2 separate regions of the Homo sapiens genome follow, and region 1 is linked to region 2. The links come from fine-mapping of genetic effects on gene expression. Tissue or cell type: whole blood. Region 2 holds a variant in brackets; the other region holds the start of a gene. All regions are shown on one strand. Distances are between the middles of the regions.

Region 1 (8,107 bases), 100 kb after region 2:
AATTTCTCAAAAGGCTAAGACAGCCTGGCTGCAGGAATGTGCAATCATTCTTGAAAATCAGCAATGGTGGGTTGCATTTATCTGATCAAAAAATGCAACTGCCAAAAAAAAAAAAAAAAAAAGCACATCTGCCTCCCCACAAATGAAAATTTAGGTAGCATGTGTCTAAGTTAGTGGCAGAGTAAGAGGAGTTTATATGGTTTCTTATCACTGGACTAAAACACAACTAGTAAAACTGGTATAGTAATAGTCACCCCGGGAAATATGCAATGTGGATATCAAAATCTACTCCCATTACTTCAGAGTGTCAAATGGACTGAGTGGAATGACTTTTCAGCTTAATGCAAAGTGAGAACTGCCACTGGGTAATAAATTCCTTTCTGTCCTAAAATAGTAGCCCAAGAAATAATCATCCCAAGAAGTAAGAGGTGTTTTATCTCCTCCGCGGCAGCAAAGGGCTTCTCCTGATTGCTAAGTGCTGATTTATTCCAGAATGCACAATTGCAGCTTGCTGCTGGTCTCCACCCCATCCGCCTGAAGGCAGGGATGTTCTTGTCTGTGTCAGAACTGCCTGCTTAACCCAGCAGGAAGCCTTGTCACCGGTATTCAGCCCTGGCCACGTCTCTTGGCTGAGAGAAGCAGGAGCCCAGCAATGCTAACATTTGAAAGATCCAGAGGGAAGAGAGGAGGCTGACTTTTGAAGGGATGATCTGCATCCATCACCACTTGCCCTCCAGATGCTATACCCAAATAGCAGTGTCCCTCCTGAGGCTGTCCCTGAATGCCACCCACCAGTGACCAGCCGCACTGGGAGGGGTGTGTGTTTGTGTGTGCGTGTGCGTATGCATGTCTGAGAAGGGCTGTTGTGGGGCAGGCTGCTCTGCAATGCTGAATGCTCCTGTCTGTGCCTCTTCAGACATTAATATATGCAGATCAGAGGAAGCTAAATTCCAAGCCTCTGTAAGCATGTCCAAAATGGCCCTCTTGCCCAAAGCACTTCTTCAAGTCTCAAACTAAAGATCAGCATTTGACAAACCACGGGTGAGAGTTTGCAAAAACATGAAGGAGTGAGCCCTTGCCAGAATTGAAACCAAGACGAGTGCAACAATGAAAAACGCTTAGAACCCACGGGCTGGCAGCCAGGGCGTTCGGACTTGGTATGGGCGTATCAACAAATGCAGGGTTCCCCACAGCGATTTACAGCAGAGACTCTAGTAGAGATTTACAGCAGACTGGAGCACTGCGCTCTTGCAAATGCAGAAGTTTGGGGTGGGGAAAGGTAGAAAAGAAAAAAAAGAAGAAGAAGGAGAAAGTGACATATTCAAATGCGATTCAAACATTCCAAGCTGCTCTTTTGACCTCAGAAATTTTACCACGATTTGGGTGATCCTAATGGTCTGTGGACCACGTTGGAAAATGTCACAATAGATGTTTGAATTAAAATCCAGTAGGTTTGCCAAAAGACCAATTGTTAAAAATTGGCAGCATTCCAGAGAACTTACTAGGCTGTGTACTGCCCCGGGGCTGAGAGAACTGCTAATTCCAGAGAAAGTTAATTATCACCTTATTGATAAAAGGGTAATTTTTAAAGCTTGTGGTGTGGCTTTTGTGACTCATTAATTAAAATTTAGAGTAATTTACTAGATACCCTGGTGGCTTCTGTTATATGATATCTGTACCAAGCCGTTTAATGTCTCTCCCAGGGGCTGATTTAATCCCCCTCTTCTCTCCTCACCTGTCTGCTTTTGAAGGCAATGAAAACATTAAAAAATGTGTAAATCTAAAACTAGCCTTTTGAGAGATGGCAGAATTAAGAAATAAGATGTCTAGGGAGGCATTGTTTAAAAGTTCCTTCTTAGAAACATCAGATGTGCCCACCAAAAGAAAGAAGCTTGTGTGATCACACCAAAGGCAACTGCTTTCACAAACTTCATCCACAAAATGTTAGACAAGATTTTACGCTCCATGATAATCAGATTAAAAGAGGGTCTTTTCTCATCTCCTTTCCCTTCTTTCCCATTCCATCCCCACATAAAATCTGAGGGCTCAGGGGAAGAATGACACTGGAGATGCTTGGTATCCTAAGGCTCCCAGCCCAATGAGGGGTAGTGTCACCTGCCACGCTCTTCAGGACTTGTGGAGTGGGATGGGCACATCCCGGCTCCCTGGCATCTACCCATGTGATATTGAGGTTTCCGAGGGCAGGGACTTGGGGAGGAAAATTGTCCTGCAGATCCCTAACAGGGCCCCTGTGAGGGCTTTCAAGCTCCAGCCACCACCTCTGCCTGGACCAAAAGTTCTTTAAGGTGCGTGTCATAAAGGATGTGTGGACACATGTGTGATGTGTCCTCAGGCCACACAAAATTGTAAACAGACCTACGAAGCACTCTAACATTTAAGCCCCCAGACTCCCAGAAAGGTTATTCCTCTCCGAGCATTCCTTGTTATGATTTCAGGGAACTTCAGTTATGTTTCCTTAAAAGTATTGAAGTATTTGAGATCCAAAATTGAGATTAAAAATACATAAACAGCAGAGATGATTTTCTCATCATTTCAAATTTTAAAAATTAAAAAAGTCTATCTTTGTACTTTGGGGTAGTGCTTGAATTTTTTAATAGGAAAGTGTTACTGAGTATTTTTTTAAAGTCAATATTGTTTTGAACTCTCATTATAAAAGTTCTTGCAGCAAGTGACAGTATTTGGGTCTGGCTTGTTTTCTGTGGGCTGAGCTGCTTAGCTTACCTGCTGCTTGCTAGAGGAGACAGCCTTTCACCCTCACCCCCAGGAGTCAAGAACCAGAAAGTGAAACTGCTTCTGCTGATTTCCCTCGCCTCGAAAACACACCACCAAAAGCAAAGAAATGATGAAAAGCAACTTACTCGTTTCGCTTATTGTTTTCTTGTCTTTCTATTACCGTTCATTTACTCTTTTCTTTTTTTCTTTTCTTTTTTTTTTTTTGCAGCAAAATAAAAGTAATTTTGGGGACACAGGGAAGAAATGTAAACATGTTATACATGAAAGAACTGGATTTTTGTGGGCTTTGCACTTTTGTTATAATTCCACAAATGAAGCAAACTGATGAATTTACCAAAATATTTCAGAGCTCATCTACGTACACAATTTAAAGAGCTAAAGAAAACACATTCATATTTTTTAAAAATTCTGTCAAAAAGCCTGTTTAAAAGTTATAGTTTGTGAAGCCACCAATTTCCCTAAAACTGAAGATTCTACATTAACCTTTTGAGTTTAGACGATCACGCAGTACCGATTTTCTAGGTAATCTTCACCCAGCTGCTGTTGCTCAAACAGCCCCTCATTTTATCAGACTAGTTCTACCAAGCAACACAAAAAATGCTCCACACAAATATTATACCCCCCAGATAGTTTAACACACTAAGAATTCCTTTGTAGTTATTTTTATGCTTTCACTCCAGATATTCTATTTTGCTTTAAAAAAAAAAAAGTGGAGAAAAAAAGCAGCTATATCCCTCATTCTTCAAAAATGGTTCCTCTGGTTGAAAAGAAAGAAAAACAGCATATAACAAATACCCTGATTCTGAAGTGCCTGGATTACTTTCTCAAGTACTGTAGTGTCTGAGATCAGTAAAAAACCACTTTCTCAGAAAGCCACTGATTGTCTAACCCTCATGAGTACCGTCATGGAATCTAGAGACAACACGAGGAGACACCTCTCGTTCACGATCACAGATAGTGGAAAGAACTTTGACTCAAGCACCTCAACTCAGCAAAACAGCTCAGCAGCCTGCACCCTGGCCTCATCCACCGCTCCTGTCCAGCCAGCAATCAACCTGGAGAGGACCCCTCATGCTTTGGGAGGAGCACGTGGAAGCTGGTTCAAGTCACAGTGCTCCACCTGGGAAGGAGGTGATTTTGAGCTTGGGAAAACTGCCGCTAATACTCCATAGTCACCAGTTTTTTTCCCAAAAAACGAATTAAAACCAGAAACTAGCAGTAAATATTATTCTTATTTATGCCTCATAAATTAGGAAAAACCAGCACAAAGACATGTGAAATATTCTACCTGGGATATTTGAAATAAAATTAAATGGGAAAAAAAACACTTTTACATGTTCATAACATACCAATTTTAATAACCAAATTTTAGGTAAATATTTTTATCCCAAGACATAGTACAATTTTTTTAAAATTAAAAAGCAAAACAAAGCAAAATTATCGTGAAGGGAAAAAATAACTAACCGGTTACTTGAGTTCACATTTGGAAAAAAATAACTTTCTAGGTATTTAAATGCAGAGTTAAAGAGTAATGAACATGTATATAGCCCAAATTTATAAACTATATAATTCAATGTTACATTTTCCCCTCTGAGATCTGGTTAATAAATTAAATGCTGTACTTTGCATATGAGGAACTAAAGTTTACCTACTGGACTCAGTGGTTTTAGTGCAGGACACTCTTGTGCGTTGCCATAGAGGTAGGCATGCAACCCAGAAAAAACTGAAACAGGTAACCTGTCATGCTGACAGTTACAAGAGAAAGATCCCGTGTCAACGGCACGCCTCCAATTGTGCATCTCCCTTACCTACAGCTTGTTCACCAGAGCCCTGAGCAGGTTGTTTACCAGGTCGGGAGTGTTGACTCAGAAGACAGATGACTTTCAGCACATGCAAACCGAGTATTGCAAAAGCTATCTTCCACCCGTGTTAGTAGCTCACAGTTAGTCTCCAGCAGCCCTGCGCTCCAGCTGCAAACATCTCATTAGACTAATGCATTCAGCACAGGCAGAAAACTCGATTTACCATAGCTACAGCAATGAATTTCCATTACGATGACAGCTTCAACCACATCATGTCCGGAAAACCAGCCAACCACTGGCTTTTAAAGAACACACACATTTTACATGCAGAAAACGAGGCCTCTGTGTGTGTGTGTGTGTGTGTGTGTGTGTGTGTGTGTGTGTGTGTGTGTGTGTGTTTTGTGTTTCCTTCCTCTTAGCAGCCTAAGAGAAATGTGCAGTGTAGCTTTTTGTCGACATGAGCTGCAAGGTAATGACACTTCTGCTTCTTTGGTAGTTACATCCTTGTAATAACCTGAATTATGTCACAATGGTTAGAATGGGTGTTTCCAACATTTCAGTTTTCATTACCCCTCCTCTGTTGCCATAGAAACCAGACTGTAACATCGTCTCTTTGTCCCAATCCTGCAGCAGTGTGGGCCAACACCAGGCTTATAAGACACTGGTGATCTGACAGAGTGAATGTTTGACTTTGGACAAATAAAACAAAAAGAAATATTACAATAGCATCATTGTTCAGGAGACCCTGTGTGATTCCCAGAGCAGTGTGCCTATCCAGGTGTGTGCACACACCATGGTTGTACATATTAAATCAGCGGCTGCCCACAACATATGTGTACAGTTCATTAAAGCCGGCCCTGACTTTGGCTCCAGGCCTGTATGTGTGTGTGTGTAAGCATCTCTACCCACCTCAACGTGGTGGGACCTGCACAGGATAGAAACAGGGCAAGAGTGACTATTCATTCCCATGCCCCATTGCATTTTCTGCAGCAAATCAATATATATCGGCGAAGGGATCTTTTCTTTTCCTTTCTTTTTGTAAAGTGGAGCAGGGCTCCCCATTGCCCATTTCATCCACTCTGGGATATTGGCATATTCACAGGTATTTCCTACAAGATGAAACATCCATTCTACAAACATGTGGCTTACTCCTAGGGATGAGCAGCAAACAAATTTAGCCGGGACTAAATATCAACCAGGGCTAACGAAGGCTTAGGCCACAACCTGGCCAGTTACTGAGAGTGAAAAAAACTGCAATGGACAACTTGAGGTTTCTCTAAATATATGTGTAGAGTCACATTAGAAGTACATAAGAAATCTCTCCTCTGAAATTTATTATGAAAATATAAAAAATTGTTTTAAGTCAAAGCCTTGTAATTAATTGAGCAAGAAGAAATTCACTACTTTAGTTCATTTAATCATCAAATTTTGTTGTTTTGTATGGGAAAAGGCAGGTTTGGTAGTTTGCATTTTCATTTCATATAAGTTGATTTCACTAAAGAAGGAGGAAGAGGAGAAGAAAAGAAAATAAGATGGATGGGCCAGGTGCAGTGGCTCATGCCTGTAATCCCAGCACTTTGGGAGGCCAAGGCGGGTGGATCACGAGGTCAGGAGATCGAGACCATCCTGTGAATGGTGAAACCCCGTCTCTACTAAAAATACAAAAAATTAGCTGGGCGTGGTGGCGGGCGCCTGTAGTCCCAGCTACTTGGGAGGCTGAGGAGGGAGAATGGCGTGAACCCGGGAGGCGGAGCTCACAGTGAGCCGATACCGTGCCACTGCACTCCAGCCTGGGTGACAGAGCGAGACTCCATCTCAAAAAAAAAAAAAAAAAAAAGAAAATAAGATGGATGGGCTAGGTGTGGTGGCTCATGCCTGTAATCCCAGCATTTTGGGACTCCTGGACTTGAGGTTAGGAGTTCGAGACCAGACTGGCCAACATGGTGAAACCCCATCTCTACTAAAAATACAAAAATTAGCCAGGCTTGGTGGCGCTTGCCTGTAATCCCAGCTACTCGGGAGGCTGAGGCAGGAGAATCGCTTGAACCTGGGAGGGAGAGGTTGCAGTGAGCTGAGATCACGCCATTGCACTCCAGCTTGGGTGACAAGAGTGAAATTCCATCTCAAAAAAAAAGAAAAAAGAAAGAAAAAGAAAAGAAGAAAAGAAAAGAAAAGAAAGAAAAGAAAAAGAAGAAAAGAAAAGGAAAGAAAAGGAAAGAAGATGGATGATTTAAGTTTGGACAGCATCTCTGTCCCAGCGACAGCGGTTATTATACTCACACCCGTGGCCTCACACATGCCACACTACACTGAGCTTAAAGCACCTGGAATGGGCTGAGACATTAGACCAATTTTCACTCTAAAATGTTTCTTAGGATTAAAAAAAATAACATTTCTTAAGTAATCAGAAATAATCTCCAAGTCCTGTAAAAGAAGTAAAAGGGTTGGCAGAATCTACCCATAAGAAAGGAGTTGCTGGTTTTCCTACCCAGCTCTGTGAGGGTTTCTCACTCTGATCCTCAGGCCCAACCTCCTTGCCTCCTCCCAGATGGGCTACTGTTGTCCTTGTCCTCAAGGTGGGTGCATGTGGGAAGCACCCATTGTCATCTAACAGGTCAACTTGGTAATAAAGCCTAAAATTGAAATCAACAAAAGCTGGATTGCTTGGGCGCGGTGGCTCACGCCTGTAATCCCAGCACTTTGGGAGGCTGAGGTGGGCAGATCACAAGGTCAGGAGATCGAGACCATCCTGGCTAACACGGTGAAACCCCGTCTCTACTAAAAATACAAAAAATTAGCTGGGAGTGGTGGCAGGCGCCTGTAGTCCCAGCTACTTGGGAGGCTGAGGCAGGAGAATGGTGTGAACCCGGGAGGCGGAGCTTGCAGTGAGCCGAGATCACGCCACTGCACTACAGCCTGGGCGACAGAGCGAGACTCCGTCTCAAAAAATATATATATTTTTTATATATATGTATATATTTAAGTAAACAATATTTATTTACTTAAATATGTTATTCAAAATATTTGATATTTAATAAATTATTCATTAAATTATGTAATTTAATAAATTTAATAAATATGTAAATATATTTATTTAAATATATCTTTATATTTTTATTTAAATATATTTACATTTTTATTTAAATATATATTTACATTTTTATTTAAATATATATTTGTTTTTTACTTAAATGTATATTTTTATTTAAATATATCTTTATATTTTTTACTTAAATTTTTTTATTTAAATATATCTGTATATACACACATTTATTAAAATATATATATTTAAACTTACTGGGATTTCTTTCTTCATGCAACCAGGAACATAGCTTTTAATAACTTAAATCAATATTTTAAAAAATCCTAAATGTTTTTAATTCCAAGAAAAATTTAAGTTAAACATGTAAGAAAAAAGAAATTTGATGGGATGACTGGTATTAGCTGAGGGACCTGCTAAGAAGAAAAGTGACCGCTCTGAGCTAGCATCTCTCTAAGTCTTGTACATCCCTGTCCCATGAAAAGGGTGCTTAGGTTGTGCCACGTTGTTA
Region 2 (8,107 bases):
TTATCTTTAAATCAAATATACCAATACCTTTTTATAAATATTAAATCCTAAACATATAACTTATAATAAGTCGGAAACTGTCTGGCCCCCTTGAGTGTAGGTGTTCAATAAATAACAGTCTGATACAGGCCTCAAGCCCCCCTTTGCCAGGGCTGTGGGGGGTTCAAATATGAATAAGAGGCTTCACAAAGCTGAGGGTCTGTTCCTTTCTCTAGGATAGAGTAAGAACTATAGATGAGGAAACAAAGTGCCATGGGAGGAAAAAGGAGGGAGTGAGCATTTCTGATCAGACTTCCCATTGCCTACTCAGCGTTACTTTGCACTTCTTCCTCTGTAATAGCAGCCCTAACTTCCATCTGGAATCATGGTTGCTAGGAATGAAAACCACATTTCCCAGCATCCCTTGCAGCAAGTGGCCATGTGACTACATTTTGGTCAATGAAATGTAAGCAGAAACGGAAACCTCTTTCAGAGACACTGGTGCTATCCTTCCTTCCGTCTTCTCCCCACCCACTTCCTCTGTCTCACTGCTGAGAATGTGCATGGCTGACTGGCTGTTTCTGGTACCTGCGGTTTTATTTAGCACCCTGAGGAAGGCACTGGTTAAAAGGAATCTTTCGGCTGGGCGGGGTGGCTCACGCCTGTGGTCCCAGCACTTTGGGAGGCCGAGGCAGGCAGATCACGAGGTCAGGAGATCGAGACCATCCTGGCTAACACTGTGAAACCCCGTCTCTACTAAAAATACAAAAAAAAAAAAAAAAAAAAAAAAAAAAAAGCCAGGTGTGGTGGCAGGCACCTGTAGTCCCAGCTACTCAGGAGGCTGAGGCAGGAGAATGGCATGAACCCAAGAGGCAGAGCTTGCAGCCTGGGTGACAGAGCGAGACTCTGTCTCAAAAAAAAAAAAAAAAAGGAATCTTCGGAGAATTAAAGTGTTAACAGACCTACAAAGGATGAATAATTTCATTTTTCTTCAGTGTATCACAAAGGCTCAACAGTGAACTTCAACTGATACATCACATAGCAGCTTTTCTCCAAAGAGGTTAGGTGGCTTTGCGATTTTAAACATCCCACAGTCCCGTGGTGGGGGTCCTGCTGATTATGGACAACTGGATTTCAGGGTCTCAGGCAAAGTTCTCTCTAATATTTATTTTTATTTATTTATTTTTTGAGACAGAGTCTAGCTTTGTTGCCCAGGCTGGAGTGCAGTGGCGCAATCTCTGCTCACTGCAACCTCCACCTCCCGGGTTCAAGCGATTCTCTTGCCTCAGCCTCTCAAGTAGCTGGTATTACAGGCGTGCATCACGACACCCAGCTAATCTTTGTATTTTTAGTAGAGACGGGGTTTCACCATGTTGGTCAGGCTGGTCTCAAACTCCTGACCTCAAGTGATCCACCCGCCTTGGCCTCCCAAAGTGGTGGGATTGCAGGCATGAACCATCGTGCCTGGCTGGTTCTAATACTTCTAAGTTATTAAAAAGACAGCCAGGATTCAGGGTTCAGGTATTGATGTTCTTGGGATGAAAGGCAGCAGGCACAGGTGGACTCCGTGTCTCTGATCTCATCCCAGATCCTGACAGGCAGAAGGGCCTGAGCTAGGGGGCCTCTCCTGGGGTGCAACCAGGCTCCAGCAGAGAGGCTTTCTCAGAGCTGGAGGCTGAGGAAGGGTCTGGGCTGCCCCTCGGCCAGTCGTCTGGCAAGATTACTCAGACTGTCAGGGCCTGATTCCAGGATGATATGAGTTAGCTCTGTGTCCCCACCCAAATCTCACCTTGAATTGTAATAATCCCCATGTGTCAAGGATGGAGCCAGTTGGAGATAATTGAATCATGGGTTTGGTTCCCCCATTCTGTTCCTGTGGTAGCCAGTAAGTCTCACGACATCTGATGGTCTTATAAAGGGGAGTTCCCTTGCACAAGCCCTCTTACCTGTCACCATGTAAGACGTGCCTTTGCTTTCCCTTTGCCTTCTGCCATGATTGTGAGGCCTCCCCAGCCATGTGGAACTGTGAGTCCATTAAGCGTCTTTCCTTTACAAATTACCCAGTTTCGGGTATGTCTTTATTAGCAGAACAGACTCATACACAGGAGAACAAAGGGCCGGTATGGGGATGAAAGTGAAGGACAGGAGGACATCCTAGGGCTCAACTGGAAGGAGGTGTGAGGGGCTGGGGGACAGGAGCTATGCTGAAGCCCTCTGAAGAGCCCTGGATTCCCTGGCCCTGGGTCACCAGTTGGACTGAACAGGGCAGACTGTTGTTGAGTGAGTGATAGAAGTTCTCTCCAACCAAATCATGCCTCCCTCTTACTGCTGGAAATCCTGCATTTAAGACATAGGGCTGAGATTGCACCAACGTGAGTGGGAGAGAGAGTAAATATCTCCTTTTTAAAAAGTGGGACTCTGGGATTATGAGTCAATTCAATCAGCATGGTGTCCTGTGATCACCACCCTGAGAAAAGGGGAATGGGGCTGAGGAGAAGAGGATGAGAGAAAGACATTTAAACTCAAGAGGGACATAAGGATGAGTGTTTTGACAAGAAGACAAAGGGACACCGTGAGGGCACAGACATGATGCATGTTTATTGAACACCTACCACATGCCAGATATTAAGCTAACACTGGGGACAAACCTATGAAATCAAGGCTGCCCCTGGTTTACTTTACAGTGTTGGTTCGTGAAAGATCTTGTCCCTTTCTCTTGTTCTTAGGAATCAAATGGAACAATGTTGCTCTCCTTTGGAAAATAGGGCTCTGCTCACTTAATCTGCCTGGCTCATGGCCCTGTGTGACAGTGTTGGAAAGTGGCCTGCAGGGCATCTCTACATTTGGTAAGAGCTGCTGTGGAGGGAGAATCTGCGCTCTACCCCTCAGAACGCCTCTCCGGCAAGGGGCCCCTTCTCACCTCTCCATCCTTGGCCAGGGGAAGCTGGTCAGGGCCACGCTCATCTGGGTTGGATGAGGCTCTTGGAAGAGAATGTGTGGAGGGTCTTGAATCATACAAAATAGCTCACGTGTGCGGCTTGCTGGGGTCACTGGTGGAAGGATCCTAGGCTCAGGGGAGAAATGTGACTTGCCACAGAAGACAGAGCCTGCCCACTGAGGGGCTACAGGGTGGCAAGATGAAGACTCCCAGACTCCTTGGCCTGGGGCCTTCTTTCTTCAGCAGTTCTCAGCTGTGGAGCTGATGGGCTGTGATCTGTTAAGGGATGTGTTAAAAAGATCTATGCTGTAACTACTAACATTTATTGAGCTCTTGTTACCTCCTAGGTCTTGTACTAAATGCATGTATGAACTCATTTAATCCTCCCAACAATCCTATGAGGCAGGTGCTGCCATTATTATTATCACAATTTTATAGGTGAGGAAACTGAAGCACAGGTAAGTTAAGACTTGCAAAAGGTAGGCAGGAAGCAGCAGATCCAGCATCTCAGCCCAGGCTGTCTGGCTCTAGTCCCAGTGATTATCCACTATACTCTATGGCCTTTAGGCACTATCAAAATACTGAAGCTTGAAAATGATTTTTTAAAACATCAATCAGAAGGGCCTTCAAGCTATTACTATAATCCTTTAGCCCTTATAGCGCTTTTGTAGACTGCATTCCAACAAGCTTTCTTTAGTGGATGAGACAGAAGTGGCATTACAACCAGCATTGGGGGAATTTTGCCTAACTCTGCCTCTGCTCATGTATTTGTATCCTGAAGGTGACACTTCCTATGCAAGAGACAATTCTTTACCAAGGTCTGGTTCTCCTTTCTCCTGGGCAGAGCTAACCTACAGCTTCCAGAGTCCCTTATGGTTAAGTGTGGCAAAATGACCAGCTTTTGCCAATGAGATGTGAGTGGAAGTGATGAGCATCACTTTCAGATTGCAGGGAAGCACCTGTGTCTTCTCCACACCTTCTTTCCCTTTCTATTCCCTAATGCATGGGGCATGAAGGCTGTAGAGGGTGGCAGAGCCACAAAATAGATGGAGCCTATGTCCCTATATTGAGATGCATCCATGAATCAGGAACATTCACCTTTGGCTCTCGAACAAAAATTTCTATGGTATTTGAGCCTGTGTACATTTTGGAGTCTACGTATCCTGTGGCCTAGCCTGCCCTAATACACGATTTTCTTTGCTTATCAAAGGTTGAGTTTGGCTGTTTTTGAGAACCTCAAGATCCATGAAAGGACTTGTGGAAATTTCTGATCTCCCAGCAGTCCCACGTTTAAACAGCCACACTCCCCCTTCCCCAGATGCTGTGCTCCCCGCGCAAGGGCAAGGGATGTTAAGTCAGTGGGAAGCTGATGCATGCATTACATTACCACATCTGTTTCCTTCAAGAGAGGTCGTGTTTCTCTTGGGGCTGGAGGCTGGAGGCCTCAGCCCAGGTGCCGAGGGGCCACCAGAAGACATGGGGCTAGTGCGGGGACCACCAGCGGTGGCAGCAGGACCACCCCCAAGGTGGCTGTCTCCAGAGTTCTGCCTCTTGCAGTACAGCGAGGAGGAGGGGTGCAAGGAGCCCCTGTGGTTAAAGGTGGAGGCGGAGGTGTCCACGCTGTAGCGGTTCATGCCCACAGGGTTCACCAGGTACTCTTCGGTGGTGACTGTCTTGACTAAGCAATAAGGCA[G/A]TACAGAGAAGCAGATATCAGAGAGCAGTTCAGGAAGCTATCAGACCCTCCGTCTTGGCAAACCCTGCCCTGCCAACACAGTAGCCAGTATTTGTGAGCATGCAGAGAGGAGAAATGAACCTCACAACATAATTCCAAATAGCATACCTGTCAGCAGGCTGAGAGCTGCTTTGCCCACAGGAGCATATTGTAATAGGAATTAGGAGGTGTGCTCCTCGGTGCTTAGAGGAAAATTGATATTTTGGCCATTGATGACTTAATAAGCCCAAATCAGGCCAGGTGCAGTGGCTCCCGTCTGTAATCCCTGAACTTTGGGAGGCCAAGGCAGGTGGATCACCTGAGGTCTGGAGTTCAAGACCAGCCTGGCCAACATGATGAAACTCCATCTCTACTAAAAATACAAAAAATTAGCCGGATGTGGTGGCAGGCACCTGTAATCCCAGCTACTCAGGAGGCTGAGGCAGGAGAATCGCTTGAACCCGGGAGGCAGAGGTTGCAGAGCAAAACTCCATCTCAAAAAAAGAAAAAAAAAAAGAGTAAGATCAAAGACTTTCTTCTGCAGTGGCTCTGCCCTCACAGTCTCTGCTGGCTTCTCAGAATCTCCCTGTACTCCCTGCTCTTGCTCACCCACCAGCACAGCCCCCCTCACCTGGCTCAGGACTCCTGGGAGAGATCAAGCAAGAGTCACAATGTCCCAGAGTCAGGAGAGACAACTGTGGCCTGGGTGGTGGCCCAGGTGCCACAGTGCTTTCTCCCCACACCTTTAGTCCTGATACAAACACATGAGGGCAGCCATCCTCCGCCACGGCTAACAAGCAGGGATGCAAGTGCTGATCTGGATAGCCCCACAATCCTCCCCAAACCCTTCACAGGAGAGCTAAAGAGCCAAGCTAAAGTGCAGAGGGAGGAGAGGACTTAGAAAGTCTGCCAACCTCATCATCAGCGCCTCTTAAGTAAACCAGGACTTATCATACTTTTTTTTTTTTTTTTTGAGATGGAGTTTTAATCAATAAGTCTGTCACCCAGGCTGGAGTGCAGTGGTGCGATCTCGGCTCACTGCAACCTCCACCTCTCTGGTTGAAGCGATTCTCTTGCCTCAGACTCCCGAGTAGCTGGAAGCACCATACCCGGCTAATTTTTGTATTTTTAGTAGAGATGGGGTTTCACCATGTTGGCCAGGCTGGTCTCAAACTCCTGACCTCAAGTGATCCATCTGCCTCGGCCTCCCAAAGTGCTGGGATTACAGTCCTATACTTTTAAAGCTCAACATTGAGCCTGTTGAACTCCCTGTGAGCTACACCTGTGGCCGAATGGTGGGTTTTTTGTTTGTTTTATTATTTTTATGTGGAGTTTTTCTTTTGGGGGGTGGGGGAAGTCCAGAGAAATTACGGTGATAGAAAGAAGGAAACTATTCTAGTCCCTCCCACCAGGACAAGATCATGTCTACCTGTCCCCAGCAATAATTATCTGTATATTAGACACCATCAAAACAGATCTTGGTATGCCCAAAGAAAATGCAATCAGCAAAAATATGAAAAATAAAAACAAAACAAAACAACAACAACAACAAAAACCAATGGATCCTCCATGATTGGCAATGAAAAACAAATTTGAGGCCACAAGATCCAAATGTCTTCTCCATACATGGATTCTTCCACAATGTAGGAAGATTATTGAAGATTAAGACTTGATTTTATTAGGGAAGCTAGCAGATCTTCTCATAGTTGGGGATGGATGTGGAGCTTGACTAAAAATAAAAGTCTTTGAAGATGTGATACAGATAAGTAGTGGCTAGAGGTAAATTTACAGCTGTAAATACTTCTGTTAAAGGAAGAAAGATCTCAAATGAATAACCTAATCTTCTATCATAAGACACTGGAAAAAAAAGCAAAGAAGGAAATAATAAAGATTTGAGCAAAAATTAATTCAATAGAGAATTTTAAAAAACAATAGAAGAAATCAATAAAACCAAAAGCTTGTTCTTTGGAAAAAGAACCAACAAAATTGCAAGCCTTTAGCTACATTGACAAAAAAATAAACAAATAAAACGTAAAGAAGGAAAGAGAGATGATTCAAATTACTAGAATCAGAAATGAAAACCTGAAAGAGAGGAAATTACTACCAACCTTACAGAAATTGAAAAAGATTGAGAAATACAGATGCTTTTTGCTTACAATAGGGTTATATCCCAATAAATTTATCATAAGTTAAAAATATCATAAGTTGAAAATGCATTTAGCATACATACTCTACCACACATTATAGTTTAGCCTAGCTGACCTCAAACATGCTCAGAACACTTACATTAGCCTACAGTTGGACAAAATCATCTAACACAAAGCCAATTTTATGATAAAGTATTGAATATCTCATGTAATTTACTGAATACTTACTGAAAGTGAAAAACAGAATTGTTGTATAGATACTTGAAGCATGGTTTTCAGTGAATGTGTATCACTTTCACACCACCATAAAGTGAAAAAAATCATTGTCAAACCATCTTAAGTAGGGAACCATCTGTTCTATAAACAGTTGTATGCCAGTAAATTAGATAACTTAGATAAAATGAACAAACTACTAAAACTGACTTAAGAAGAAAAAGACAATCTGAGTAGACCTGTAAGAAGTAAAAAGATTGAATTAGTAATCAGAAAACTACCCACAAAGAAAGCCCAAGCCTGAATAACTTCACGGTTGAATTCTACCAAACATTTAAAGAAAAAATAATACTAATTCTTTACAAATTCTTCCAAAGAATAGAAGGGGGTGGAATACTTCCCAGCTTCTATGGCAAATACTTCTACGAAGCCAGGATTACCCTCATACCAAAACCAGACAGACACATCATAAGAAAACTATAGACCAATATCTGGTATTCATATGAATGCAGAAATCCTCAACAAAAAACCTGGCAAAACTGAACCCGGCAACATATAAAAAGATATATACACCATGACCAAGTAGGATTTATCCCAGGAATGCAAGCCTGATTTAACATTCCAAAATCAATTAATGTAATACACCATATGGATAGAATAATAAAACAGAGATCACACAATCACCTCAACAGATGCAGAAAAACATTTGACAAAATCCAATACCCTTTTATGATAAAATCACTCAACAAACTAGGGACAGAAGGGAATTTCCTCAATCTGACAAAGGGTATCTGCAAAGAACCAATAGGTAATATCATGGCTAATGGTCAAAGACTGGATGCTGTCCCCCAAGATCAGGAACAAAAAGAGACGGTCCATTCCAGCTACTTCTATTAACATTGTACTAGAGGTTCCAGCCAGTGCAATTAGGTTAAGGAAAAGAAAAGCCATCTGGATTAGGAAGGAAGAAGTACAACTATCTCTTATGTGTACGAAATCCTAAGGAATCTACTTAAAAGACTGTTGGAACTAGTAAGTAGTTCAGCAAGGTTGTAGGATACAAGATCAATGTGCAAAAATCAATTGTATTTCTACACATTTGCAATTAACAATTAGAAA

The links. PIP is the estimated chance that this variant, and not a neighbour inherited with it, causes the effect.
Region 1: it holds the start of SCML4, and the variant in region 2 is fine-mapped to the expression of SCML4 in whole blood (TOPMed, PIP above 0.99).

Annotation. Positions count from the first base shown.
Region 1 is chr6:107,819,564-107,827,670 of GRCh38, forward strand. SCML4 (Scm polycomb group protein like 4) reads right to left here and starts at 4,750. Exons shown (of 8, transcript NM_198081.5): 1 at 4,563-4,750. RefSeq lists an enhancer at 2,833-2,902.
Region 2 is chr6:107,716,399-107,724,505 of GRCh38, forward strand. It overlaps SCML4 (Scm polycomb group protein like 4), which reads right to left. Exons shown (of 8, transcript NM_198081.5): 6 at 4,305-4,595. Among named protein-coding and RNA genes, the nearest start is that of SCML4, 100 kb to the right of the region's middle. RefSeq lists a silencer at 378-527. The variant G/A (reference allele first, on the strand shown) is at 4,611.